Linked DNA regions of Homo sapiens. The protein of the gene in region 1 purifies or fractionates together with the protein of each later gene. This does not show direct contact. Each region holds a gene or a part of one and is shown in the gene's direction. Other genes may lie near its edges.

What was found.
Region 2: the proteins of LZTS2 (region 1) and SESTD1 purify together in Homo sapiens (affinity purification with mass spectrometry; 3 studies listed by BioGRID and IntAct, with this or other methods). This does not show direct contact.
Region 3: the proteins of LZTS2 (region 1) and SIPA1L1 purify together in Homo sapiens (affinity purification with mass spectrometry; 4 studies listed by BioGRID and IntAct, with this or other methods). This does not show direct contact.
Region 4: the proteins of LZTS2 (region 1) and NUDT15 purify together in Homo sapiens (affinity purification with mass spectrometry; 3 studies listed by BioGRID and IntAct, with this or other methods). This does not show direct contact.

What each region holds. Positions count from the first base shown.
Region 1 is NC_000010.11:100,995,595-101,002,815, forward strand, and holds the start of LZTS2 (leucine zipper putative tumor suppressor 2), read left to right. Parts: upstream 1-4,213; 5' UTR 4,214-4,358; intron 4,359-6,902; 5' UTR 6,903-6,944; coding exon 6,945-7,221. UniProt on the Homo sapiens protein: Negative regulator of katanin-mediated microtubule severing and release from the centrosome. Required for central spindle formation and the completion of cytokinesis.
Region 2 is NC_000002.12:179,261,822-179,268,748, reverse strand, and holds the start of SESTD1 (SEC14 domain and spectrin repeat-containing protein 1), read left to right. Parts: upstream 1-3,916; 5' UTR 3,917-4,250; intron 4,251-6,927. UniProt on the Homo sapiens protein: May act as the primary docking protein directing membrane turnover and assembly of the transient receptor potential channels TRPC4 and TRPC5.
Region 3 is NC_000014.9:71,315,683-71,323,489, forward strand, and holds the start of SIPA1L1 (signal-induced proliferation-associated 1-like protein 1), read left to right. Parts: upstream 1-4,793; 5' UTR 4,794-4,821; exon of another isoform or gene 4,822-5,439; 5' UTR 5,440-5,499; exon of another isoform or gene 5,500-5,849; intron 5,850-5,991; exon of another isoform or gene 5,992-6,166; intron 6,167-7,252; exon of another isoform or gene 7,253-7,807.
Region 4 is NC_000013.11:48,033,834-48,040,725, forward strand, and holds the start of NUDT15 (nucleotide triphosphate diphosphatase NUDT15), read left to right. Parts: upstream 1-3,892; 5' UTR 3,893-3,913; coding exon 3,914-4,071; exon of another isoform or gene 4,072-4,159; intron 4,160-6,892. UniProt on the Homo sapiens protein: May catalyze the hydrolysis of nucleoside triphosphates including dGTP, dTTP, dCTP, their oxidized forms like 8-oxo-dGTP and the prodrug thiopurine derivatives 6-thio-dGTP and 6-thio-GTP.

The sequences.
Region 1 (7,221 bases):
CCTTTGTGAGGTCTCTGTGAACTGGGGATAGAGGGATAGATACAGACTTGGCTGTTTGTCTTGCCCCACCCTTCTAGCAGACACCCCCACACAGCACAAACCAGAATGATGAGGGGGAGGGGAAGCTAATACTCCCCCCAGCCCTACCCGCTGCACAAACACGTTCTATTCCATACCTGCCTTAAATACCCCATATCATGATTCCACCCAGTCTGTTCAGATCCCTGGATTCTAGAAAGCAGTGGGGGGTCCCTAGGGCCTGTGCGGATTCCCTGGGATAGGACTGGTCTGTCTACACCCAACTGGATGTTAAGAATCTCCCTGACTCACAGGTTCGGTGGATTGGGAGGAAAAAAAAAAAATTTCCCTGAGATCTCAGGAAAGGCCTGGCTAAGCCAGGTCCAGTTGGATCTACAGCCTTGTCCTCTAATTGATAATGTATGTCACACTTGGCCATGAGGGGACAGCTTTGGTCCTCTGGCAGCTTCCTCTCTGCTGTGGATGGGTTTAAGAAGAAACAACTCGGCCGGGTGCGGTGGCTTACGCCTGTAATCCCAGCACTTTTGGAGGCCGAGGCGGGTGGATCACGAGGTCAGGAGTTTGAGACCAGCCTGGCCAATATGGTGAAACCCCGTCTCTACTAAAAATACAAAAATTAGCCGGGCGTGGTGGTGCGCGCCTCTAGTCCCAGCTGCTCTGGAGGCTGAGGCAGGAGAATCGCTTGAACCTGGGAAGCGGAAGTTGCAATGAGCCAAGATCGTGCCGCTGCATTCTGGGCGACAGAGCGAGACTCCGTCTCAAAAAACAACTCACCGAGGTCTCCTGTAGCCCATATGGGCCAGATACCTGTAGACCTTCCTACATGCTGCCTTGAGTGCCATGGTGGGAGGGAGCCCTTGGGGCCTCCCTGCAATACAGGCCAACTTCCTGTTTGTGCCTGTGGGTGGGACTTTATGAGTCTTCGAGAAGCCCAGCCATGCCCCGTGGGGGTCAGAACCCGCAGGCCTGCTCACCTGGGCAGATACCTACTCTAGGGAGGGGGCTGTGCTGGTTCTGCCTGGGCAGCCCCACGCTGAGGTGTGTGCGTGGTAGGGGTAGGTGGGAGCTGCTCTGGTGAAACTTGAGCCTTCTTTGTCTGCTTCCCAGGGGTTGTCCCTGTATTTGGGGATTGGGCCAAGAGTGGACCGGGTTGGGCTCCCATCGGAGCAGGGAGGGTGGCAGAGTCAAGCTCTTAGTTTAAGCTTAGTTTAAGGCAGCCAGGTAGCCGAATTCTCGGTCACGTGATGCTCGCCCCCTTCCCCAGGTCAAAAACCAAATCCAGTAAGCTGTGAAGTCAGAGGCCAGAGGGGCAGCCTCGGCCACCGTCGAGTCACTCTTAGGCTGGGCACTGGGTCGGCTGCTGGTGGAGTGCGGGGCAGACCACTCCCCTCCCTGGGTGGGGGGCGCGGCCTGAGCCGCCCCGCCCCGCCCCGCTCCACCAGGTCGGGCCAGGCGGGCGCCGGGAGCTGGGAGCCGGGAGCCCAGAGTTCGGAACCTAGAGTTCGGAGCCGGCTAGGGAGCCGGCGTTGTCGCGGCGAGGAGGTGGGCGCGCTGGAGCAGGAGCGGGGCCGGAACTGGAGCCGAGGCGCAGGTGGCGCTGGGTGAGTGGTGGGGCGGCGGAGGTGCAGGAACTCCCGCCTCCCGCTCATCCCCGCTCCTGAACGAACTTTCCGCTTCTAGGGAAGCTAGGGGTTGGGGTGAGGAGGGGGGTCCGCACTTGGTGGGGTCCCCGCGAAGAGTCCGAACAGGGAAGTGACACGAAAACGCACGCCGACGGGCCCCACACACGCGTGCACAGACCCACGCCCGCACTTGGGACACGCGAACACACATGCACTCGGAAAGGACGCGCCCAGTTGGCCACCCTTGCACTCCCAGGGACAGCGCCAGCCGGCCCGCGCGGACCCACAGCGGGCAGGGCACTCTGCGGTCGCGTATTGGGTGCGGGAAAGGGGCAGCCCTGTGACTACCGACGGGGGCGGGCCGGGTGGGACGCACCCGGAGGTTCCTGCTTCCTGGCCTCCCGCAGGTGAAGACCAAGACGTAAACAGACGCCGAGCACGTGACAGCTCCGCAGACCAGTGGCCTGTGCCCCCAACCCAACCACGGGGCGGAAATCCACCCTAGTCCGGGGCGCGTTTGCTTGGTCCCAGGCCGGACGGCGTTCCATTCTCCGCCTGGAGCGGGGATAAGCCCTCTCCCGGGAACCGGAGCACAGCGCCCCCTGGAGCCGGGGCGGAGCAGGAGGGCCCGGCTGCTGGGCAGGGCTGGGGTTAACTCGGGCTCCTGGACGTCCTTCTCCCCAGCACATTCTTGGTGTCTGCATCCCTGAAGGTTTCGGAGACAGGCCCTTGATGGCAGTGGACAGCTGCCCCCGCCTGTTACCGCCAGCCCAGAGAGCAGCTGCCTGAGCGCCTGCGGGTCCCCTTCCTACCCTCACCTCCACTCCTTGCGGGAGTCGGAGTCTCCTCCCCCCAGAAAATGCATGAGTGTAAACGCTCCCTCAATACCAGAGTGGGCCTGCCCCCCTAGAAAAAGGAGGACGAGCCCCTCCCCCCAGGGAATGAGGGAGTGGGCAGTAGCCCGATGCCTCCTCCTCGCCCCACCCCCTACCCCTACACACACGCTGAGCCCAGCTGCCGCCTGAGCTGGGCAGGCTGCCAGAAAGAGGAGGAGGCTCTCGGTGCCCCAGGAGGCAGGGATCAGGGCAAGGCCAGAGGAGGGGGCTCTGCTGGGGAGAGGGGCTCAGTCTGTTCTTGTGAGGCTGAGGGTCTGGGGTGAGTCAGGGTGGCTGGGCTGTGTTTCCCTTTCCAGGGAAAAAGAAAGAAAAACAACCCTGTCCATGGAGCTAAAAATAGAGCTGAGAGCCGGCCAGGGCTGTGGCCTGGAAGGGGGGGATGCTCCTTCCTGGGGCCCGGGCGAGCTCCGGCAGGCCTTGGCCCTGCGGGGGAGGGGGTGGTTAGGGGAGAAAGGCTGCCTTTGCCCAGGGATGCAGGCATCAGCTGACCTGACCGGGTCACCGAGACCCCTAGGGGAAAGGCTGTGCGGTAGAATATTTGTGAAGCACGGCGTGTAAGAAGTTGTCTGTGTGAGTGACTGTGAATAGAGGCTGTCAATGCGTGAAAGATGGTTAGGAGACTAAGTGCACTTGAGACTGTGACTGGGTGCGAAGGACTGCGGATTGTTGTGGAAGCCTGTGCCCAACAGGCCTGTGACACCGTGTCTGTGTGTGAGGTGGACTGGAAGATTATGGAAAGAAGGAACGCGGACCCACGTGACGGCTGAGACTGCGGCTGCATGTGGGAAAGGTCTTGTGGGTGTTAGGGAGACTGTATTGTGTGCGAGAAGGTGAGACTACTTGACCCTGAGGAAGTGGAATATTGTCTGCCGTGAGGCTGGTGTAGGTTTGGGCTGTAGGCTTGCACCGGTTCGCCCCAGTGATTGTTGGGGAGCCAGGGGCCGCTCCTCTCCGATAAATGACCTCTCTCTTAGCAAGTGATCCCGAGGGGAGGCTGGGGAGCACGCGGTCGCGCCAGAGGCCGGCCTGGGTTCGCGGGGAAAAGGGCACCGTGCCGGGGAGTGGGGCAGGGCCCGCGTGTTGGGGGCGGCTGGGTGTGTTCTCCGAGCCGGCCGCCAGGTGGCGTCGCCTCCGCGAAGCCCAGGTTGCCGCCTCCAACCCGCCGTGGGGCAGGCGCGGATCGAGCCTCGGCCTCCTACTCGGGCTAGGGCGCGGGGTCCCGGCACCGGAGAGTGGGGGACGGCCGGCCATCGGCCTCTCGCTTGGGACTCTGAGGCTGAGAGCGTGTCAGGGAAGCTTCGCCTGGAGAAGCGGAGGGGGAGGGGCGGCCGCCGCCGCGCCGTGGCCCTTTGTGCTGGAACAATGACCAGCTGCCGCTGGCCCCGGGGCCCCGGCTGGGGTTGAGGGTGACCACCGCCGCCGCCGCGTCGAGCCGAACCGAGCCCCCAGACACGCAGTCACAGGGCGTCGGAGGGAGGGCTCCCGACTGCCGCCGAGCAGCCCCTACGTGCGCCCCGGCGGATTCGCGTGACGCGGGTGCTTGCGCGTGTCCGCGCCCCGGGGCGGAGACGCCCCTCGGACCCTCCCCTGCGCGGTGCCGCCCACTCGCACCGGGCGGGGGCTGGCCAGGGCCGGGGGCGCCGCGGAGGCGGAGGCGGGGCTGGGCCGGGCAGCTCCGAGTGGCGGCGCGCGGGCCAGGGCCGGGGCCGGGGCCGGGGCCGGAGCCGGAGCCGGGGCCGGGCGGCGCGCCTGTGGAGCGCTGGGGGCGGCCTGGGGCTGAGCATGGAGCAGCGCGGCGGAGGTGAGGGGGGCCGGGTCTGGGAGGCGGCCTGGGGAGCCCCCAACTTATGCGCGGTGGAATCCAGCCGGGGGGACGGCGTTCCCCAGTCGCCCCCACTTTCTGGAAGGGGGGCTGGACTCTGGAGAATGGGTCAGGGGCTCCTGGCTTCCCGCCGCAGAATGGGAACTCGTGATCGCAGACTTGACCCCGCTTGACTGGTCCTTGGAGTTTGGGTGGGAGGGAGACTTTCCCCAACTCTTCAGATCCGTCTCCGGCCCTGAACCAGCTCCAGCCCTCTGCTCTCCTCAGCCCACTAAAAGGGGGGTGCTCCTGGGCCAGAGTGATTGCTCAGGGAGTGCTGGGGAGAATGAGGGGTTCCCATCTCCCACAGCCACAAACGCATTTCTCAAAATGGAGCCTCCACTTGCCCCTCCTTCTCTTTCGGGCTCCAAGAGCGGGAGCCGGCCTGGCTGGGCCTGGCTTTCCAGACTCCTGGCTCTGGCTCCCTGGATGTGTGGCTCTCAGGGCCCGGCTCTGTGGCACTTTGGACTTATGGGCCCTCGGCTCCGTGGGGTTGGGGGGCCCTGGCTCACTGGGTCCCGCTGGCTGTCCCCTTGTCGGCCTGACCCTCGGGCCTCTCCGAGTCTTTGTCTCTTTTGGGTCCCTGTCTTTCTCTGAGCCTGTCTCCTTCCTTCAATTTTCACTTTCTCCGTGCTCGCTGAAGTGGGGAAATGCAACAGAGGTGCCAGCCCCCTTGGCCCCCTAAGAAGTCCCTTCCCCACTGTTCACTCCACACCCTGGAGTGGGCCCAGAGAGGGGAGGGGAGGGGGTTCTCTATCTGCTCTGCTGGGGGCTGGGGTGTGTGGGGTGGTCTGAGCCCCAGCCCTACAGAGGGGCCTGTGGTCACTCCCTGCTCCTGGCCTACCCCTCCCCCAGCTCCCCGCAGCTCCTGCCCCAGCGTGGACACCTCTTCCTGGTTCGCAGTGTCTTTTGACTTGGGTGGGAAGGAGGGCGGTGGATTTAATGGAGGGCATGCGAGAAAGAAGGGGAACAGATCAGGCAAAGGAGTTAGATAATGTCCCACCTCTCCCCACACGCCGAAGAGAGAAGGAAACAGGCTCCCCCCACCAATGGGCCCTCAAGCCACCCAGGCTCCCACCACTCTCATACCTGCGTGCCCACGTTCACAGGCTCCACTGCACCACTCACCTTCCTAGTCACACACAAACACAGGAGCTCACACATAAACTCATGAACTTACTGACAAGTCTGTCCAGGCACCGTCTCTCCCACACACCACAAATTCACTTGTTAGATCCACATTTATAACTTTCACAGGCTTTCTAATGACCCCTGATCCACATACTCTTCTAAGATATACACATGTGAATTCACACATGAACTCATATGTATGTGAATGAACTGATATATCAAACATGCATAGACTCACATGATGTTTTCACACACATTTTCATACACACGTGTTCATTTTCATGCTCCTGTGCATGTAGTCACACAACAAATAACTAAATGCACACACTCCTACTCCCAGTGCAATTCTCTGTCCACTTCTTGGCCCCGCTCTGCATGATGACTTCAGCAGATGCCTAAGTCCTGGTCATCAGCGGCCTCGGGACTGGGACTAGGGAGGGGGTTCCGGGTGGAGGCTTGCAGCTGCTTCCAGGAAGGAGCAGAGCCTGGGGAGGTGGAGCCCTCTTGCCTGGGCTCTGTGGAAGTGAGGTTTTGGAGCAGCCTCCAGAGGTGAAGGCAGGGCATCTACCTTCCTCCCCTCAGGGTTAGTTTGGGGACCTTCTGAAGCTGTAGGGTTTCAGAGAGGTTGGCAGTGGGGCAGAGCCTGTGGAGGCTCCTTCAGGCCTTCAGGCCTCACCGATTGGGTGTGCAGAGGCTAGGAGTTGTCATGGAAACTGGTATGAGCCTGCATCCACCTCTGGGAGGCAGGAGACCCCAAAGGACACCTGTGGACTCCCTAAGAGCCGCGGGTTTCTTATTTAGCCAGATCGACAGAGAGGCAGTTTAGCCGCCTTTCTGTCTGAGAGAAACTGAGGCCCAGCAGAGGGAGGCAGGGCACTGCCTGGCCTTGGCTCTTTGTTCCCTAATTACCATCTGAGGTGCTGATTGCACCCCTGAGGTACCTCTGCCCAAACTGCCCTGTAATGAGGCCACCTGGCTGAGAGGACCAGGGACCTGTGCTTCAAGCTGGTAGAGAAGGCCCCTCCCTCACCTGAGTCCTGGCCTCTGTGGAGGATGCAGGATTGGGCTTGGGCCTGGGTCTTTGCTGCCAGGTGGCCCTGCGGTAATCATCCAGGCCTCCCATGCCTCTCAGCATCTCTGCTGAGTGAATTCACTCCTCAGCCCTGTTCAGACCAGCATTGGGCAGTGTGGTTTGGGGCCCAGGGGGAATTGAGATTCATTCCAGCACTTGAAGGGGGAGTCTTGGTGGGGATCAGGGCTTGTTACTGATGTCAAGGAGGTGTTTGGTCAGGATCAGTGGGTCAGGAGGGGTCTCAAGGTGGAGGGACTCTGACACCACTGCCCTGCTTACAGGTCGCCTGCGAGGCCGCTGGCCAGGCCTGAGCCTCTGCCACCATGGCCATTGTGCAGACTCTGCCAGTGCCACTGGAGCCTGCTCCTGAAGCTGCCACTGCCCCACAAGCTCCAGTCATGGGTAGTGTGAGCAGCCTTATCTCAGGCCGGCCCTGTCCCGGGGGGCCAGCTCCTCCCCGCCACCACGGCCCTCCTGGGCCCACCTTCTTCCGCCAGCAGGATGGCCTGCTACGGGGTGGCTATGAGGCACAGGAGCCGCTGTGCCCAGCTGTGCCCCCTAGGAAGGCTGTCCCTGTCACCAGCTTCACCTACATCAATG
Region 2 (6,927 bases), on another chromosome or scaffold:
GGGCCCTTCCTGCCCATGAACACCCTCTGTGAGTCCTTCTGGATTTCAGCTTCCTCAATTGATTGCCTGATTGGATCAGGGTTTTTTTTTTTTTGGACTGATTTTTTTCCCCCCAGGTCATTTTTTGAATGAGTATGACTTGCCTGTGTCTAGGTCAGTGCCCACCCAGGGGCAATCAACAGTGATTCAGGGATTACACAGACAACACAAAAGAGTATATTGCCTGGGGCCACCCTTCAGCAAGGGCTGGAGGAGGGGCAGTTTCTCCAAGCCAACTTTGGTGCAGGATGACTGTGTAGCAAATTACCTAACCGAGCTGAGTTTCAGGAAATTGGCAGTAACAATACCAGTTTGAGACAGACTGAGAATTCTTCAGTGGTTCAAGCAAACAATGTATGGAACACACTCATAGAAGGCATTTTCACTATTAATTTATGATATAAATAAAACAAGATGAGTATGGGAAGTTATCTAATTTTAGATGACATTCAAATGTGGCTTAAAAAAAAAAAGCTTGCTGGTATGGTAGCTCACTCCCGTAGTTCCAGCTACTCGGGAGGCTAAGGTGGGAGAATCGCTTGAGGCCTCGTGTTTGAGACCAGCCTTGTCAATACAGGAAGACCTCATCTCTTAAAAATAAATAAATTAGGCCAGGTGCGGTTGTTCATGCCTGTAATCCTAGCACTTTGAGAGGCTGAGGTGGGTGGATCACAAGGTCAAGAGTTCGATACCAGCCTGGCCAACATGGTGAAACCCCGTCTCTACTAAAAATACAAAAATTAGCTGGGCAAGGTGGCACATGCTTGTAGTCCCAACTAGTAGGGAGGCTGAGGCAGGAGGATGGTTTGAACCTGGGAGGTGGATGTTGCAGTGGGCCAAGATCGTGCTGCTGCACTCCAGTCTGGGCGACACGGTGAGACTCCCTCTAAAATAATTAATAATAATAATAATAATAATTAATAAATCTAAAAGAAGTAGTAGAGGAGAAATTAAGAATTTAGAAACTTGTTGCTTGAGGTGGCTTTGGATTCTTTTTCTCCACCCTTTAATGTTTTTAAAATGTTACTCTCACTTCACATTGATTTCTAGTTGGCAGGGGCTTCTGTACATAACTTCCAAAGTGATATTTAAGAGGAATAAATGCAAAGATCTGCACAGTTTCCAAAAACAAATTGCAAAATACAGGTTGGAGAAGATATGGTTTTATAGCTGTATATATGTTAAAGACTTAAAAAAGATTTGGGGGTAATTTTTGCTTGTTTTTAGTTGGCAATAACATGATATTTATGAACGGTATGGGGTGGTAGAAAAATAATGTGATATCAAACTGAATTTTGAAATATCTTCATTAGGATGCAGAAAATTGTACTCCTCTACTCCTTCCTTTATACTTGGAATATTGTATTCAGTTCTAGGTGCCACATTTTAAGAGACACTGGAGAATGTTTAGATAAATGCGTATGGAGACGAATGAGATGTGAATAAAAAGTGGGTGGAGAAGGCACACATTGTGACTGCTGACTTCAAATGTTTACAAGGCTGCATATGGGGGGGAACCATGCTGTTCTGTATTAAACAATGTTAGTACTAGGTTCAGACTCACTGGACACATTCATACGCATTGCATTCATATTTACAATAATGATTTAAGGTGCTATTATTATCATTTTCTCCTTTTAGAATGGAGCAAACTCATACTTGGAGCAGTTTTGTGCTTTTCTAAGGTCACACAATTAGGAAGTTATAAGCCCAGGATTTGACCAACTTCTTTGGAGTCTAAGTCCAGTGGTGTTTCTACCAATACTGTAGCTACTTACCAAATGTATACAGAGACAGATTTTAGTTGAACATAGAAACTAGCAGGACTGTTTAAAAATGAAAACTGTTGTGAGGTCATGAATGGTTTCCTATCACTTGGAGTTCAAACATATGCTGGATAGCTACATTGCAAGGATCTAGCATATATATATTTACTTTTATAATAAAATATTAAAAACAAATGCTAATCATAGAGCCAAAGAAACTCCAGAAGTAAAGCCTCATGACTATAAGTGATTGAGCTAAGTTCATTCAGTAGTTATTGGAAAACGTAGCATCCAAATTTCATTCTCTGAATTTATAGTTTAATGTTTTTTCCATTATAGCAGTTACCTCTTATCTAACACCTAGGTAATACAATGTGGAACCAGAAGTATGTAAAGAGGAAGGGCAGGGATATTTTGTGAATTATTATAATGGATTGCTTGGCATGCTCTTGTTTTACTAGGATAAGCAAAGAATGTGAATGGTAGTTGGAGAGAGTTTAAAATGATAAGCAGAGAATGCCACATAGTAGAGAAGGGAAAAACAGAATACCACGGAAGGCTAAAAAAGGCTGGGACTGTGGACTTCCCTGTATTTTCTTTTCGTTGAGTAGATGCTCAACATCTATTTGTTGGGATGGAAAATTATTTCAACGCTTCAGCAAACAGTTAAAGAGAACCTTTTTTGTGCTGAGCACTGTGCTATGTTCTGGGGAGCAAAAAAAATGAACTAGACAAAATCCCTGTCCTTTTAAGGAACACACAGTCTAGGAAGAAAAGGCCACCAAGCAAAGCAACAGGAAAAAAGCAAGTATTAAAGATTATCATAGGGAATACTGTAGATAGACGATTTTATGAAAGCAGAGAGAAAAAGAGTATTTAATTCATTGTAAATGTGTGGGGTAAGGATACAGATGTGGTGAAAGGAGATGATGTCAGGGAAGATTCCAAGGAGGAAGGGATGCATTATCTTCATTATCTTGAAGGACAATAGGAGTTCAACTGGTTAAATGAGGGATGGATTTCAGGTGGGGGAAAACTACAAGGGCACAAAGACAAAGTCTGTTGAATTTGTGTGATACGTAGATATATTAGGAGTTGAAGCTGGAGCCAAGGAGGTCAATAGATCAGATTTTAAATGGCTTTGTAAACCATGGTAATGAGTTTGAACCTGATTCAACCAGGTGGAGAGACTTTGAATGATTTTAAAGAGGGACGTTTCATGCTTAGCTCTGTCTTTTTGGAGCATTCTCTCTGGCAGTTATATGGAACTGAAGCAGCAGTGAAGTTAAAGGCTTGACCTAGAGTGGCAAAGAGGTGGAAGTCATGGAGACAGACTGATATTCACAGAATTAAGAGGAAGAATTAATCCACGGGATTTTAAGTCAGAAAACTTTAGTGGAGAGAAATTTGGTTGCTTAGTTGTTGGAATAGGAAGATTTTATCAACGGAATTAGGTGATACTGAAGTGAGTGGCTGAGTGAATAATATGGAAGTCTTGAAATTGGGACCACACAGCTGCTCTGATCTGGTGTGAATTTGCTGATGACTCTTTTGAACTGAATTCAGGAAATGACATACAAATGATTTGCGCAATAAAATGAAAACAAGGACTCTTAAGTCAGTATACTTGGAGAAAAATAACTAGGTTGGTAAAAATGGGGAAGTAGCCATTATCAGGGAGCCCCATTGTGGATTAATTTTGGACTGTCCAGTGGAAAGATCCTCAAAGCAAAACAAATGCCCTGAATCCAGCCCTTCCTCACCGCAACCCTTTCCCTTTCATCTGCCTTCATCCTTCAGCCACACCACCGCTTGGCAGTGAGTACTTGGGAGCAGCTCTTGGAGACTTTGTACTCGAACCTTCGAACTCCAGCATGAGGCCAGAGGAAATAAATGACCTGCCAGGGTGTCAAGTAACGGACCCTCTCTTAAGCCCAGACTTCTGACTCCAGATCTAGGTACCCTTCCACTCTCCAAGACTGCCTCCCGCCTGGGGAGCCTGGGCCTCGGCTAGGGGTGGGGACGGCAGGGTCCGTCCGGAGCGCCAGAGTCCCACTCGCGCCCAGCCCTCAGCCCCAGGCCCGGTTGGACGCCCCGCCCCGCCCCGCCTCCTTCCTCCTTCCCGCGCCGGGCGGGTTGCTGTACCGCCGTCACCCGGGCGCGCGCGGGGTCGCGCGGACGCGGCTCGGGCCGCGGGTGCCGAGAGGTCGCCGGGCCACCCGCACCCCCGCTCCCCGCCTGACGCACGGAGGGGCCGGGACGCGATTTGCCGCGAGTGACTGGAGCCGCAGCCGTCGCCGCTGCTGCCGCCGCCGCCCGGGCCCGCTCCGCCCCCAGCCCGCCTTCCTCCCGCCGCGCCCTCCGCCTCCGCCCGCACCTCGCTAGCGTTCCCCTGTCTTCCCCAACGCCCCGGAGCCGCCGGCCGCTAGCGTCAGCGCCAGCCAGGTGAGTGTGGCCGCCGCTCGGCCCGGGCGGGAGAAGCGCGCAGGCCCCGCGGCCGGGTGGCCGGCTTGGGCCGGTGCAGTCGGCGGCGGCGGCGGTAGCGGGCCCGGCTTTCTTCCCCTGCGCGGGCCGCGGGGCGGAGGGGCTACGCAGTGAAGGAGGGGCGCCCCCGCCCCGCCACCGCCTCTGCTCCCAACGCCCCGACCGCCCCCACCGCCTTGCCGCCACAGACAAAGCGCCGGAGGTGGGAGCCCTGCGGGCCGCCTTTGCCTCCGCGCCGTCTGCCGGGTGCGGCCGCGGCCCGCAGAGACCGGGCCGCGCGCTTTTCCGTTCCTGAGCGCCCTTGTTCATTTCTGGGTGAAAGGGACCCGAATTGTGCAACAGGTTTGGGCGTTAGTCCTTATTTTCCAGCGGGTCTCTTTTGCCAGCGTGCAGGAACCAGATGTGGCTCCCTGCTCTCGGGCGAGTCCCGCGTCCAGCGCCCGCGACTGGCTCCTTTGTGTGACCGGTGACCGGCCCTGTCGGGTGGGTGGAGGACACGGGCTCGAGGCCCCAGGGCTGCGCCGAGGCTCCTGGACGCCTCCTCAGGTCGCGGGGCTTGGCTTCCACGGGCCTGCCAGAGGTTAACATCCCTCCAGCGTTTGGGAGAGTCACAAAGGGGAGGAGAGAGAGGGTTGGCCAGGGTCTGTGGTTGTGTTTATTTTTCTATTTTAGGTAGACTCATATTAGAAAAGAGCCGCAGTCTGACCAGCTCTTGAGGGTACGGGTGGGATTTCACCCTGGGATGCACGGTTTGGACTTGGCTGTTGCTCTGACAGCCCCCGTGGTTTTCTTGGTGCTTTGACATCTTTCTCTTACACACAGACATCGCGGGAGAAGTTGGGAGTGCTGCCGAGGGAGTAACTAGATAGCAGCTGTTTGACAGGTCGTCTCTTACTTCACGTTTTGCTTGTGTCAAGCATGCCCACTATGTATCCCAGCATAGCTTGGCAAACCGTCAAATTTAAATTGCCACTCAAAATCCTAATCCTTATACATACCTACATACACAGACACACATATATCTATATACTTTTTCTGTTTTGGCTGGCTAAATCTTATTAATGTGAGAATTTTTCCTCCCAAGGAAGAATGCATAATAAGGTACAATTTATCTTTGGTTACATACCTTGGTTAAGTTATGCCAATACCTAGCTGGTTTCATTGGTATGCTATTTTAGTTTAACAATACTAATTCCTTTAGCTTTGAGCAGTAAAATACGTCTTTGTTCTAGGACCAGGAAGCTTTTATACGTAATACTTTGCCCCATGACTAAATACGTGAAAAAATTCCCCAAGGACCTAGAAAGCATTTCACAACTCTATAGGCTGTTTTTATGTTCCAAATTCCAGGAAATCGTTTTGTTGAATATTTATTCAAACATTCTGGACTAAATTTAACCTTAAAAATTGGGCCCACTCTAGTTTTTCCCCAGCATTAGAAAAATGAATTGATTGCATTTACCAAACATTTTAGCCCCTGTGAATAAGAATTGAATGGAATAATTGATGTAAGAGATTAGGAGCTAGTGATGGACTAGGAATCTGACAACAGAATGCAGAATGTAGAAAGTTGTAAGTAGAGGTCACAAAGTTGCATCTACTTGGGTTTTAATTCATTGCTAGGCATTTAATGACATTTTAAACAGGTAATCTACTAATGATATATCTGAAAATGAAATGTCCAATAATTAAGAAAACAAAGTATTGCATTTTGACCTTTTTAAAAAATGTATTTTTATAAGGACTTGTTGAAGCTTTTCCACTCTCTAAAAATGAACTTGGTATTAATGACATTTCTTTTGAAAAAATGAAATTGTACCAAACTAATCCGATTTTTAGAAAGTTTCTCTGTTATAGTAGTTTTACTTTACTAAAAATACCATTCATCTGTATAGTAGCTAACTTCAAAGATCTTTTAAAGCTGTTACAAGCAACATGAGCAACCTCTTGAGGAAAGTAGAATATTTACTAATAAAAAGTAGCAAGCAGAGAAGTGAGCCATGATTGGACCACTGCATTCCATCCTGGGTGACAGCCAGACTTTGTCTCAAAAGAAAAAAAAGCAGAGACTTAAATTTTTATAATAGTTTTCTTTGAGATATAATTCATATGCCATAGAATTCACTTTTTTAAAGTATGCAATTCAGTAGTTTTAATATATTCACAAAATTATGCAAATGTCGGCACTAATCCAAGAACGTTATTACCCTAAAAAGAACCTTGTACCTGGTAGCTTTTGTTACTATTCCCCCTTCCCCATATTTGACAACCACTAATTTACTTTATGTCTCTATGGATTTGCCTATTTTGGACATTGCATGTGAATAGAATCATAATATGTGGCCTTTAGTGTCTTTCACTTAACATAATGCTTTCAGGGTTTATTCATATTATACCATGTATCAATATTTCATTCCTTTTATGGCAGAATATTATTTTGTTATATGGCTATGCCACATTTTGTTTATCCAATCTTCAACTGATGGGCATTTGGGTTGTTTCTACTTTTTGGCCATAATAAATAATGTTGTGGATACTCATTTACAAGTTTTTGTATGGTATATATGCTTTCAATTTTCTTGGATGTATACCTAGATGTGTAATTGCTGGGTTATATGGTAATTCTGTTTACTTTCTG
Region 3 (7,807 bases), on another chromosome or scaffold:
CGACTACAGGCACGCGCCACCATGCCTAGCTAATTTTTGTATTTTTAGTAAAGATGGGGTTTCACCATGTTGGCCAGGATGGACTCGATCTCTTGACCTCATGATCCACCTACCTCAGCCTCCCAGAGGGAACCGGTTTTGAGAGGGATATCTGGAGTTCAGGAGGGCACTGGTTTTTGGGGGAATATTTGGAGCTCATCAGTTTTAAACATGTGAAATTTGAAATACCTAGTACATAATCAATTGCAGATGTTGAGTAGCAGATGGATGTACAAATCTGGAGATGGGGGAGATGACTAGCCTGGAGGTGTAAGTTTGGGAGTATTTAATGTATAGATGGTATTTAAAACTATCAGACTGGTGAGCTCACCACAGAGTGAAAAGAGACCATAAAGAGATGTCCAAAGTCTGAGTCCTGGAGCCTCCTATGTTGAGAGGTTCAAGACTAAAAAGACCAGAAAGGTAGGATAAGAACTAGGATAGACTCTTGGCTCAGAAGCCAAGGGAAGAAAACATTTCAAGAACCAGCATGGTTGACCTCTTCCCTGCTGCTGAGGGCTCCAGCCAGGTGAGCTTGGAAGTTGAGCACCAGATTTAGCAATAAGGCAGTCACTGATGCCCCTGAGAAGACCTGTTGCTGTGGAGTAGTGGGGGTGAAAGGCTGCTCAGAGTGGATTCATGGGAAGGGAAGGATAGGAATTGAAGACACCAAGCATGGAAGAGCCTTTTGAAGATTCCAGTTATAAAGTGAAGCAGGGGGAGACATAAAATTTAGGAAGCATTTTAGTTTTTACCACGGCAGATATTCCAGTATGCTTGTAAGCCCTTAGAAGTGAAGCAGTAGAGAAGGAAAATTTGCTGATTCAAGAGAGAGTGGGGACAGTTGCTGAATCAATGTCCCTGAGTTAGAGGTGATGGCACTAATGCACAGACCGAGGCTAATCTTGGCTAAGAGCACCAAGAGTTCATAAATGACAGGAAGGACAGAGGAGTATATGCAGACAGATGCAGGCAGGTTGGTAGACAAGAGTGATAGAGAGGGTATGTGTGTTCAGTTCTCTTCTGATTATTTCTATTTTACCAACAAAAGAGGGAGCAAGGCCATTAGCTAGAAGTACTAGGCAGAGGTTTGATTAAGGAGGAGAAGATGTGAAACAGTCCTTTAAAGAGGAGGGAAGAGCACAGGGAAGTATAGTAGTTTTGCTGTTAATTGATTAACAGAACGTTATAATTATTTATAACAACGTTATAAAGTAGTTGGTGTTTTAAACTTGTAATGAATACTACTATGTAAATGAGAGAAGGGGCATTTGCTAAGGAATCCAGTATTCATGTAAACAGAGTTACATCAATAAGGCTAAAATAATAACACCCTAAAATTAAAACAACATGGGATATCATTTAATCCTGAATAATTTTGAGGGCACTTTGGACCTTTGTAATGATTTAGAGTAATCTTTCTAAATATCACTTAGAATAATGCCCTGCAGATGTACAGCTACTGGAGTTCTGAATAGGCCAGTTAAATCAGATTTTAAATGTAAAACATGCAAATGTGAGTCAGTGTTTATAATATTAAAAAATACATAAAATTTGTATGGTAGGCCTCTGTGTCAAAATTCATTCTATATTTGGTATACACTATACATTAGGGTGTTTTGTTGAGTAGAGGTAAATAACCAGAGGGAAATGAATTCACCTGGGTTTTAACGAAATAAGAAGCAAATAGGGAGGGAACAACATAGCAAATGACTAGATGTTCTTATCACTAGAAAGGTTACATATCCTTTGTGTTGGAGGGCAAAGGCAAGGGGTTGAGCAGAGATGGGTAGAGGAGCCAAGACAGTGGACAGGAAGTGGACTGAGATCTAGTCTGTGCTCTTGGCAAACTCTCCATTCCGCATTTCCCTCTTCTGCTGCCTGACATCTGCTATTTTGAAACCTAGGAAGGTCAGGAAGATACAGCAGGAGTGACTGACCTAGAGAATGTGCAGTTGGAAACTAGGCTTTGGTAGCTTTCACTTTTTATCTCCTTTAGAAACACGGATGAAAGTTCTGCCATCAGTGAGGGATAAATAGTAGCCCAGGGCCTTGAAAAAGCAGTTTTAGATCCCTGGGACAATTTCTACTATTTTACTATGTCTGAAGATTAGGGAGGTTATTTTTGTAATTTGAGGCCAACACCCATCTCTTGAGCCTTATATGAAGCACTGAAGAATGTTAATAGATTTGGCTAGCATTTGGGTCAATTATTTCAAATGGCTATCTGGGAGTCATAAAACAGATGGTCCTGAAATTGTACTGCGTTGGTGGATGTAGATTGGCAGCCATCTTTTAAGGGCAAAATTATGTTAAAAGCTAAGCCAGAACAAATGAGCAACAACTGATTTATAATATTTTGCAATGTTATGAAAAATGGTTCCTTAAAACAGATTCACAGGACTGATGGTGATGTTCCATTGTGTTTCTTTGTGAAAATGTGATATTAAACACACCAGTAAATGAATCTGAGGCCCTCCGTCCTTCCCCTCCTCCCTCCCTCCCTTCCTTCCTTCCACAGATCTAGTCTTCGCTCCTTCCTTCCTTCCTTCCTTCCTTCCTTCCTTCCTTCCTTCCTTCCTTTCCTTCCTCCCTCCCTCCCTCTTTCCTTATAGTTATTTTGGGAGTATGGATGTATTTAGTTTGGGTCTTTGGTTTTAATTAGAGTATTTATTAAATAACAAGGAATCTGCTTTGAGTTAGTGTAAAAGCAAATCATGAACTATAGATTACCTTTGAAATTACTGTAACATGGTCAATATTTTTGTTGTTTTTGTAGTTGGGACAAGATAAATTTTAAAATAAAATTGTCAACATTTAAAGAAAATTGTCAACATATAGCTACTCTTTGTGAAACTGACCTACTATAAGATGAAACTTTTTTTATCATTTGCTGTAAAAGGAAGATTTGTTATTTATTGGAAAATTTTATAGGTCTAAGAGCTCTTATATTAAATTATATATATATATATATATATATATATACTCACACATACATATGTGTATATATATTTAGATGCAGGATCTCACTGTGTTGCTCAGGCTGGAGTGCAGTGGTGTGATCAGAGGTCACTGCAGCCTTTAACTCCTGGGCTCAAGTGATTCTCAAGCCTCGGCCTCCTGAATAGCTGGGACTACAGGTGCATGTCAGTATACCTAGCTAATATTTTTTATTTTTGTAGATACAGGGTCTCTCTATGTTGCCCAGGATAGTCTCAAACTCCTGGCTTCAAGCAGTCTTCCCACCTGGGCCTCCCAAAGTGCTGGGATTATGCATGTGAGCCACCATGCCGGCCAGCTATAGAATTTTAAAGCTGTAATAACCTAACATGTGGGGTACCCCCCACAGATGAAGAATCAGAGAGATTAAATAACTTCTCAAGGAGACTCAATTATTAGTGGCACAGAAAAACGTAAACCCTAGTTTGCTGACTTTGTCTAGTATCACTTAGGTTTCTAATACACAAACTTTCATTGACAGGATTTAAACTTGCAAGTGACTTACAAGTTTTGACTGCCTAGTCCTCATATGCTTAGGTTATGCTTTAGGTTTCTAGTTCTGTGGGACTGAGTTAAATAATGGTTTCCCCATGTTCATGGATAGGAATTTTAAAAATTGAGATATAATCCACATACAATGGTATCTATTTTTACTCATTCATTTTGAAATCTAAAGTTTAACTTCTATTCATAATATCCATTTTACTTAGGCAGTGAGTATATAATAACCCTCACCTCAGAAAAGTTTCTACAGTTAAAAGACACGGGCTGAGGAGAGTTCATCTTCATCCTTACTAGCATTTTGGAGTACGTATAAAGGCGTCTGCGGATGCCTAATGATTAAAAAAAAAGTTCCCCTCACCATGGTGAATAGGGTTTTTACGAGAAAAATATGGAGAAAGCAGAGATTATTACCATTGAAAAAGACAAGGTGTTAACAGAAATGGGAGGGTAGCTTGATAGAGTCCAAACTTGACTGAACTCTCTAGGTTAGGGCCAAAGGCAAGTACTGAGGACAGGCATGGACTGTTGCGTTCAACTTGTCAAAAAAGTGGCCAATATGTAGTATGGACCAAGCCTATAGAGGCGCTGAGAATACAGAGATGAATGAGCCAGTTCCTGAAGGAGCCCAGTCTGCGTGTGTTTGCGAGTTGAGAAGAGGAGGAGGGAGGCAGCATGGGGAGTGTGGGGATGGAGGAATTAGATTGAAAGAGAAGGCCGAAAAACTGAATATATAGTAGAAATTTGGGGTGCAGATATGTGCTGCCTAGAAAGGCAGAAACCTGTCCCAGAACCTCTTAATACATTAGTCTCATTTGCCAAATTTGGCCAGATATCATGACTGTGGTCCTCTCGAGATGCCCTCTTGAATCGGCTTAAAAATTATCCTTCCGCAACCACCCCTAGCTTTCCCCACCGCCAGTGCGCCGGGCAGGTTGAAAACTGCACCCACGTTTGCAGCCTCTGCTCTCCGCAGGAGACAGGAATCCAGGGCTTTGCCGTCGTCATAGCAACCAGAAGTTCCGCGGTCCCCTACCCTCCCGCGACTTTTTCCACTTCCTCCGCCTGCAGGGCCCAGCCGCCGCTTCTCTCGCGAGACTTGTGCGCCGCGCTAAGCCGCTCCGTGGTGATCTCACCCGAGACTTGGGGGAGAGGGAGGAGTGAAGGAGGGGAAGGAATGGGGCGGGAGGCGGGGCGGGGAGGGGAAGGGCGAGTGAGGCGCCGCCACTGCCGGCAACTTTGTGAGCGAGTTCAGTGCGTGCGTGAGCGAGTGAGCGAAAAGTCAGTGCAGCGCCGAGTCCCCGGCTGGAGGGTCCCCGGGGAGGGCCAGGTCTGGGCCCCAGAGGCCGCCCCCGCAGCCACTCCATTCCCTCCCGCCTCTGTGGCTCCCTCCCCATTTCCTCCCCCACCGGTCGTTGGGGCCTTCCCGCCCCCGTCCGCACTTACCTGTCCCCTCCCCCATGCGGTACGCACCTCCTCATCCCCCCCCCGGCAACCTCGCGCCCACCTTGGACCTTCGGAGCCCGGACCCCCGCACTTGCTTCCCGTACTGGCCGCCCCCTCAGTTCTTTCTGCTGGCGGGCGGGATGGGGGCGCTGAGCCTCGGGGACGGCGCGAGCGGGGGCCCGGGCGCCTAGACAATAGTTGATGCCCAAGGACGGGGCCACCTCCGCCTTCCCCTCCTCCGGGAGCTCGGCCCCCGCCGGCCCCCCGCCAGCCTGTATTCCGGGTCCCCCTCGGAGCCAGCCTCGGGAATTGGGCTGATTCCACCCCCGCCTCCCTCGGGCCCCCCTCCGCTCCGCGCTCGGCGCCCGCCTCGGGCCGGCCTCGCCGCTCTCCGCAGAGGAGGCGGCGAGTGAGCGCGCGCCGGCCGTCTACACGGTTTCTCTTTCTCCCCAGGGAGAGCGCGCGGCGGACGCGCCCGGGACGCGCGGCGGCACCGGGAGGCCGGGCCGAGCGGTAAGTGGTCCCCGCGCCCGGGTCCTGGGGGGAGCGGGGGTGCAGGACGGCTGACAGCCCCCTGCCCTGTTTCTGGCCGGGGTTGGGGTCCAGGGCCCGGAGCAGGACCCCAGGAGGCCGGTTAAAGTTTGATTTTCGATTTGGTGGCTTGCTGGTAGCTTAGCCCGGCGGGGGCGAGTCCGGCTTCACCGCGCCCGGCGCGCGCGCACGCACCCCAGAACCCGAATCTGCACAACTACTGGGCAGGCGTCTCTGCGGGAGGCCAGGAGACCCGCGTCCCGGTCCGGGCGGTTGCGTCCACCCCGCTGAGCTGGTCGCCACCTGGCGACCCTTCCCCTCCAGTCACCTGGGTGAGCGCTTTGCAGCCTGAGCTGGAGTAGGCAGGCCGAGTTGGTTGAGTTGTGGGAAATGGAGACGAACAGCTCGGTGCCCGAGGGTGGTTAATTTCCCCTTTGGGGGTCTTGGGGACATGAAATTTTGGGATGCTCTAACCTGCTTTCCGGGGAGCGAGTAAACCGCGAAAGGGCTGGGAAGGCGTGAGGGTGCCGCAAAAAGAACTTTTCCTCCTTCGCCCCATCTGTTACCAGCTTCTCTCCTGACCTTAAAGGAAATTTCCGAGGCTCTTAAATCGCTCCACGGCATTTCTAGGTGGACCAGTAATCGTGTTGGGCAGGTTGAAATTTCATCGCGGTTTGGAGAACAGAGAGACATGGGAAATGGCTCACTTCCAAGGAAGATGTTTAGCTAAATTGTTGGCATTCGTTTTCTAAGAGAAGCATTTGGGGATTGATGGCTCCTAGACTACGATTACCTTATAGATTTTATTTTTCCTGACGGGTAGTTTAGAGGCAGCATTCGCTGAAATGCATACTACCTGTGAAACGATCATGTTTCTAAACTGGAGCCAGCGATGTGATGCAAATTTCAGAATAAAGGTGTCGACTTTCATCAGGTTCCAGGTCTATCTGGATGGACTGGGATTGGCGTTTCCTCTATAAAGCAAACCTTTCATGTTGAAACTCTGAGTCAGACTCTTAAAGCCATTGTCTTTATGCTGGTACTCTGTGGGAGTTAAGTGTCAACTTTCTCCTGTTTTCTCCTATGGAGTATCCGTCCAAGGCAAAGATTCTCTGACTGAATCTTTTGGAAACGTGCAAGGTTAGATCATACTGAATTCTGCAGCCAGTTTAGTAATAATATTAGTTTTCTATATAATCCTGATTTAACGACTGTCATTTTTCTCTTCGTTTTTTGAAAGCTGCAATTAAGCTACCTTTACCAGGATTTAAAAAAGAGGATAATATGGAACAGTGGTAATAACAGTAGGTCTCAGCTAATTTATTATGGCCACCGATGTGTCCAACTATTAGATGACATCCCAGTTATTAACTACAATATTAATATTAAAACATTTTTCCCATGGAATCAATTATGCTAAAGCATTAACAATTAACAGTGCATTTAAAATGATGAGTGATTGTTTCCACATAAATGGTTAGAGGCAAAATAAGAGATTTGGGGGATGAATGGCTTTATGTCTCTGACAACTAATTTTCTTATTAATGCTTAAGTAAAGGACTCTTGAAGTTGACTGTCATTTGATTTTTCTAGTTGACTGAGTGAACAAGTTTGGTGAGTGGCTTGAGACAGTCAGTAGGTGTTGCTGTTGTTAGCTTCTCTGCAGTTCCTGCTTCTGCTCCTCGAGTTTGAAATTGCAATTCTGGTACAGTGAACTTTTAAAATCTGAAGTATCAGTCAGTGATAGTTGTGATTTCATTGGAGGAGTCTATGGCAAGGTTGACTTCAACTCCAGGTAATAATTGCAAAGCACCTCTCTGATACTTTGTACTGAGATTCATTTAACTCTTCTTTTGTCTCTGTCCTTACACTAGTATTTTCAGGCTTCTGCATTTGCTTTGCTTTTGCTTTGAAGTATGTGTGTAATTTTGGTATAGTGCCCCCATCTTCATTGTTTAGGAACTTTTAAAAAACACTTTCTAGTGAGTTTATTGAAGTCATAGATTGAAGATTGCTTGAGATTAGCAGTTTTGTAGACTTCGGGGGGATCTTGGTTGAGTTGTGATGTATATATGTTCTATCTTAAGTTGCAATCTGAATTTTTAGATAAATGACTGTTTTTCTTTTTTTAAAAATCTGTTTGAGCTGTGAAATGGGAGCATGAGGAGAGCTGAAATGGTATGAGAGTGGAATTTGATGGAAAGTTTGTCATGATTAATAATGTGACTATGTGCCTCTTATCAGTCCTTACCGTTGTATTATCATTGTTATTGGTCCGTATCAGTGCACA
Region 4 (6,892 bases), on another chromosome or scaffold:
ACAATCCCATCAAAAAGTGGGCAAAGGACATGAATAAACATTTATCAAAAGAAAATATACAAACAGCCAACAAACATGAAAAAATGTTCAACATCACAAGCATCAGGGAAACGCAAATTAAAACGTGAGATACCACCTTACGCCTGTAAGAATGGCCATTACAAAAAAGTAAAAAAACAATAGATGTTGGCCTGGATGTGAGGAAAAGGGAACACTTTTACACTGCTACTGGAAATGTAAACTAGTACAACCACTATGGAAAACAGTATAGACATTCCTTAAGGAACTAAAAGTAGAACTACCATTCAATCCAGCAATCCCACTACGGAATATCTACCCAAAGGAAAATAAGTCATTACATAAAAAACACACATGCGGCCGGGCTCGGTGGCTCACGCCTGTAATCCCAGCACTTTGGGAGGCCGAGGCAGGCAGATCACGAGGTCAGGAGATCAAGACCATGGTGAAACCCCGTCTCTACTAAAAATACAAAAAAATTAGCCAGGCGCAGTGGTGGGCGCCTGTAGTCCCAGCTACTCAGGAGACTGAGGCAGGAGAATGGCGTGAACGTGGGAGGCGGAGCTTGCAGTGAGCCGAGATTGCGCCACTGCACTCCAGCCTGGGCAACAGAGTGAGACTGTCTCCAAAAAAAAAAAAAAAAAAAAAAACACATGCACATATAGCAGCACAATTTGCAATTGCAAAGACATGGAACCAACCTAAGTGTCCATCAACCAACGAATGGATAAAGAAAATGTGGTATATATACACCATAAAATACTACTCAGCCATAAAAAGGAACAAGATAATGTCTTATGCAGCAACTTGGATGGAGCTGGAGGCCATTATTCTAAGTGAAGTAACTCAGGAATGGAAAAGCAAATATTGTAAGTTCTCACAAGTGGGAGTTAAGCTATGAGGATGCAAAGGCATAAGAGTGATACAGTGGGCTTTGGGGACTCGGAGGGGAAAGTTTGGAGGGGAGTGAGGAATAAAAGACTACATATAGTGTACACTACTCAGGTGATGGGTGCACTAAAATTTCAGAAATCACAGCTAAAGAACGAATCCATGTAACCAAAAACTTGAAATTAAAAAAAAGGAAGAAGTCAAACTCTGTAAAATAGTTGAAGGGATGTATTCTGAGCCAAATATGAGTGACCATGGCCTGTGACACAGCCCTTGGGAGACCCTGACAACATATGCCCAAGGTGGTTGGGGAGCAGCTTGGTTTTATACATTTTAGGGAGACATGAGACTTCAATCAAATACACTTAAGATACAGATTGACCATTGGTTTGGTCCAGAAAGGCGAGACAACTTGAAGTGGGGCAGGGGTTCCAGGTTATAGGTAGATTTAAATTTTTCTGATTGGCAATTGGTTGAAACAGTTATTATCAATAGAAAGGAATGTCTGGGTTAAGATAAGACGTTGTGGAGACCAAAATTTTATCATGCAGCTGAAGCCTCCAGGTAGCAGGCTTCAGAGAGACTAGATTGTAAATGTTTCTTATCAGACTTAAGGTCTGTGTTAATGTTAAATGCTAGTTGGCTTTTCCTGAATTCCAAAAGAAAGGTGGCATAATGAGGCATATCTGACCCCTGCTCTGTCATGGCTTCAACCAGTTTTTCAGGTTAACTTTGGAGTGCTCTGGCCAAGAGGAAGGAGTCCATTCAGATGGCTGGGGGTGGAGGTGCTTAGAATTTTATTTTTGGTTCAGTTTTATAGTCTTCTGTATACAAGTGTTCCATATCTTTTGCTAAATATATTTCTAAGTATTTTATGTTTTTTATGGTATTATAAATGGTATTGTTTTAAAAATTTACTTTTCAATTGTTCATTGCTAATATATAGAAATATAATCAATTGTGTATATTAACCTTGAATCCTACGACCTTGCTAAACTTATTTCTTCTAATGGCTTTTTAATTAATTCCTCAGGATTGTTTTAAAAAAAAAAGACGGTTACTTATTCCTTTCCAATTTAACTACGTTTTATTGATTTTTAAATTTTATGAGTTGTGCTAACTAGAATCTCCAGCAACATGATGACTAAACGTGCTCAGAGTGGATACCCTAGCTCCTCCCAAATCTTGTCTTTCACCAAGATAAGGCTAGGCTAGTGCTATGGCTGCCATAACAAAGTATCAAGCCATAACAAAGTATCAAAGATTGTGTGGCTTAAATAACATAAATTAATTTTCTCACAATACTGGAGGCTAGAATTCTAAGATCAAGGTGTCAGCAGACTTGGTTTCTTCTGAGGCTGCTCTCCTTGGCTTGTAGACGGCTGCCTTCTCCCTGTGTCATCATACAGTCTTCCAATAGAACACAGTCTGGGTTCTAATCTCTACTTCTTGCGAGGACACCAGTCATAACATTAGAATAGGGCCTACCCTAGTGGCTTCATTTTAACTTGATCCTGTCTCCAAATGCTGAGGTACTGGGGGATAGGACTTCGACATAGGAATTTTGAGGGGACACAATTCAGCTCAAAACAGTCATTAAATATGATGTTAGCTGTAGGTCTTTGTAGATGCCATATATCATGTTAAAGTTTCATTTTATTTCTAGTTTGCTCAGAGATTTTGTGGAGTTTTTTTAATCACAACTGAGTATCGGATTTTATTAATTTTTTTCTGCATCTATTGAGATGATTATATGTATTTCCTTTCTCCCTCTGTTAATATGCTGAATTACATTGGCTTTTCAAATATTAAGCCAACCTAGTATTTCTGGGATTAATCTCATTGTTCAATATATTATCCTTTTTATATACTACCATTTTTTGAGAAGATATTGTAAGTACCTTTGTAATGAATGTGAATGTTGATAGTGAGGAGAGATGCTGTGAAAAGCTTAATACCCATTTAGTATAACATGGAGAGTAAGCATATTACTTAGAAATAAGTAGGCAAATATCAGAAATACAGTTCAAAGAGTTAAAAGTGATTGTTTCTGAAAGTAGGAGGGTCAGGTTGCTCTTGTTGCGGTTTTTGCACCATTTTACTTCTTAAAATTATAGCTATAGGTCAGGCGCAGTGGTTCACGCCTGTTATCCCAGCACTCTGGTAGGCCCAAGTGGAAGGACTGCTTGAGGACAGGAGTTGGAGATCAGCCTCGACAAAAGACCGACAGCCCACCTCCACAAAAAAAAAAAAAAGAAAGAAAATTAGCTAGCTTGGTGAAAATTAAAATAAAATAAAATTACCAGTATGTGCACATTACTTTGGTAGAAGTAAAAATAATGAGAAAGAGAGAAAACCCTCCCAGTAACTAGTCATTTGTTTTTATGATTCAGCTGGTTTGTATTTTGCATGGTGCATGGTGTGCAAACATCTGAAAATGTCTGTTTTCCACTGTTTGTAACTAACTCTTCCCAGCATGATTTATCAATTAGCCTTTATTTCCTCCCATGACTTATGAATATACCTTAAGCATAGTTGTTTATAATGGGATGTTTCTAAACGACCTATCCTTATCCTGGTACCACGCTGATTTGAGCTACAGGGCAAATGGGTGCACCATGGTGGGCGAGGTCATTCACGGAAAAAAGAATGTGCAGTGGTGCCGAGGTTGGTAAGAGCAGGCGGCTTGTACATGTAAATGCATGGTTTGCAGGAATCTGGGAGTGGATAGGCTGACGGGTGATGAATATTCAAAGCACAACTGTAAGCGACTTTAGTTACAGCGAAACTCTAAGGCACGCTGCCCTTCGGAAGGAAACACGGCATTCCCCAACCTGATAGCCCTCCGCGACGCATTACGCACCGCGGACAGCTGGAGAGGCCGAGGCGCTCTCGCTTTGATTTCGGCGCCTCCGCCCTCGCGGGGAGAGATTGGCTGCGGCCGCGGGACGGGGTAGTGAGCGCGTCACTTCCTGCCGCTGCCAGGCGCGTCCTCCCGCGCGCTATGACGGCCAGCGCACAGCCGCGCGGGCGGCGGCCAGGAGTCGGAGTCGGAGTCGTGGTGACCAGCTGCAAGCATCCGCGTTGCGTCCTCCTGGGGAAGAGGAAAGGCTCGGTTGGAGCTGGCAGTTTCCAACTCCCTGGAGGTCATCTGGAGTTCGGGTGAGCAGCCGCGGACGCGAGGAAACCGGGGCGTGCGCAGAGGGACGAACTCACGCCGTGCTTGCTTCCGTGTGCCGTGCGTGAGAACGTCCGCGCTGACGCTGCGTCCTTTCTTGCGCGTTCCCTCGGTTCCTCCCCTCGACTTCTGGGCGACGTAGGATCGCGCCCAGGAGGGGGCGCTGTGCTGGGTCAGGCGAGGTCTTTGCTAGCTGGGTCTTTCCGGCTGCGCCCCTGCTGGGTGGTGGTTGGGAGTTCGTCTGTGAGGTGTGTTTCTCACAGCTTACACACAAAAGGAGGAAAGCAGGTGTGTGTAAACCTCCAGCAGCCCGATATTGTCAGCTAAGACATTGCACCGTTTCCATGTGATTGATTGATTGATCGATTGATTGATTTGAGACTGTGTCTCGCTCTGTAGCCCAGGCCAGAGTGCAGTGGTGCTATCTCCAGTCACTGCAACCTCCGCCTCCTGGGTTCAAGCGATTTTTGTGTCTCAGCCTCCTGGTAGCTGGGATTACAGGCGCCCGCTACCACGCCGTGCTAATTTTTGTATTTTTAGTAGAGACGGGGTTTCGCCATGTTGGCCAGGCTGGTCTCGAACTCCTGACCTCAGGTGATCCACCCGTGAGGTCAATGACCATAGCCAACATTGAGCTCTAATGGGCTTTTTGTTAAAGGCTGGATAATATGCCAAGCTCTTTGCATGTATACTTTCATTTGATCTTTACATAACTGGCATACTCAGTGGGCTAAATTTGATGGGAGAACAAACAGGAAATGGTTTTATTTTCTCCTTCCACTGCCTTCAAACATGATTTTTTCTTTCCCTCTTCAGTGACGTTTCCTGCAAATTCTATAGTTTTCTTGTCACTTGGTTATAAAAATAAATCACATTTGGGTCAGTATGATTCACTTCCAAGCATTTAAAAGTCCAATCCAATTTAAACCTTCAGTGTCACTTCCAGTTTCTAATCCCTCCCCTGCAGTGCATAAAGGAGGTGTGAGCCATTGTTCTGCTTTTCTGTATCCTCCTCCTCTTCTCACCTGGCTGTCTCTGAGTTTCCTTCTTTCTCCAGTGTGTTGGAGGAGGAGAGAGAGCAAGCCATTCAGGTGACTGATGCTGCTCTGATCCATCCATTGGTGTCCTCTGGGCATGATATCCACATGTGTGCTTTCTCAGGGTATGTTTGTCAGTTGTTGGGAAGTCCCACAGAGATTTTCCTGACATAGGTGACGGGCTTTCTGTGATGCTGGCCCACCTCCTAGCTCTTGCTTTTAGCACATCACCCCACATTTTCTTTCTACTGGGATCTCCTATTTGATTACCCAGCAGTCTCTTGTGGCATCTGCTTGGCCCAAAGGAAACACACAATGGGAATGATATTTCCACTGCTGCCCTTTTTCCTTGCTCTACCTCTGTATTCATCTGCATCTGGAAACTCCGAGGGACACATTTCAGATTTACCCAAGAGCTTTCACCCTTGTAGCACACCTTTTCTGATGCACTGGGGTAGGCCTGTGAGTTTCTGCAGCTCAGGATGTCTTTAGCAGGGGAGTGACACACTGAGTATCTCCTTCTTGAGTCACTCCCAATCTTGTGACTGATTCTCTTGGAATGTTCCTCACCTGTCTTGGGGGGGCAGAGTTGGCCCCTTGTAGTCTGGAAGGGAAATGCTCCTACTAGGCTGAAAACTCCAAACTTTCCTCTGTCTCAAACATCTCCTTTTTTTTTTTTTTTTTTTTTTTTTGAGACGGAGTCTCGCTCTGTCACCCAGGCTGGAGTGCAGTGGCGGGATCTCGGCTCACTGCAAGCTCCGCCTCCCGGGTTCACGCCATTCTCCTGCCTCAGCCTCCCAAGTAGCTGGGACTACAGGCGCCCGCCACTACGCCCGGCTAATTTTTTGTATTTTTAGTAGAGACGGGGTTTCACCGTTTTAGCCGGGATGGTCTCGATCTCCTGACCTCGTGATCCGCCCGCCTCGGCCTCCCAAAGTGCTGGGATTACAGGCGTGAGCCACCGCGCCCGGCCTCCTGTCTTTCTTATGTAGCCTGGATACGGAGAAGTCACAGGTCTAGTCTGGCCTTCCTTAGCTTGAGCTTGAGCTCAGATGACATCTGTTTGCCCTTTTGCTTGAGAATTTAGAAGTGCTTTTTACCTATTGTCTTCAGTTTTGAGGCTTAAATTGAAATTCTGAGACTGCTGGAAAAGACATAGTGGCACTTCTTGATACAATTACAGTGACCCCATGAGGAAGTAATATAATCTCTTTTTACTTGTCCAAGGTGGAAAGTAATGAACTTTGAGCTCAATCCCAGGTCTAGTTGACTCCAAAGTCTGCTCTTAATGCACTAAACTGCCTCCTTGTTACACACAGGTTCCAGGGCTGTAAATTAGTGCTGAGATGGCTAAATGTTAATTTTTATTCAATATTAAGTCCTTTTCATCTTTAGATAACTAGATACAGGATATAATGTCAAGGGCAAGGTTGCTGATTTACTGGTTTTAAATCTTTATCTTTTTAATTAATTATTATTACTATTTTTTGAGACAAAGTCTTGCTGTTTGTCCAGGCTGGAGTGCAATGGCACCATCATGGCTCACTGCAGCCTTGACTTCCCAGGCTCAAACTATCCTCTTGCCTCAGCCTCTTGAGTAGCTGGGACCACAGACCATAGGCACGCACCACCATGCCCGGCTATTTTTTTTTTTTTTGAGAGATGAGGTCTCACTATGTTGGCCTCAGCTGGTCTCCAACTCCTGAACTCAAGCTGTCCTCTTGCCTCGGCCTTCCAAAAGATTACAGACATGAGCCACATGCCCAGC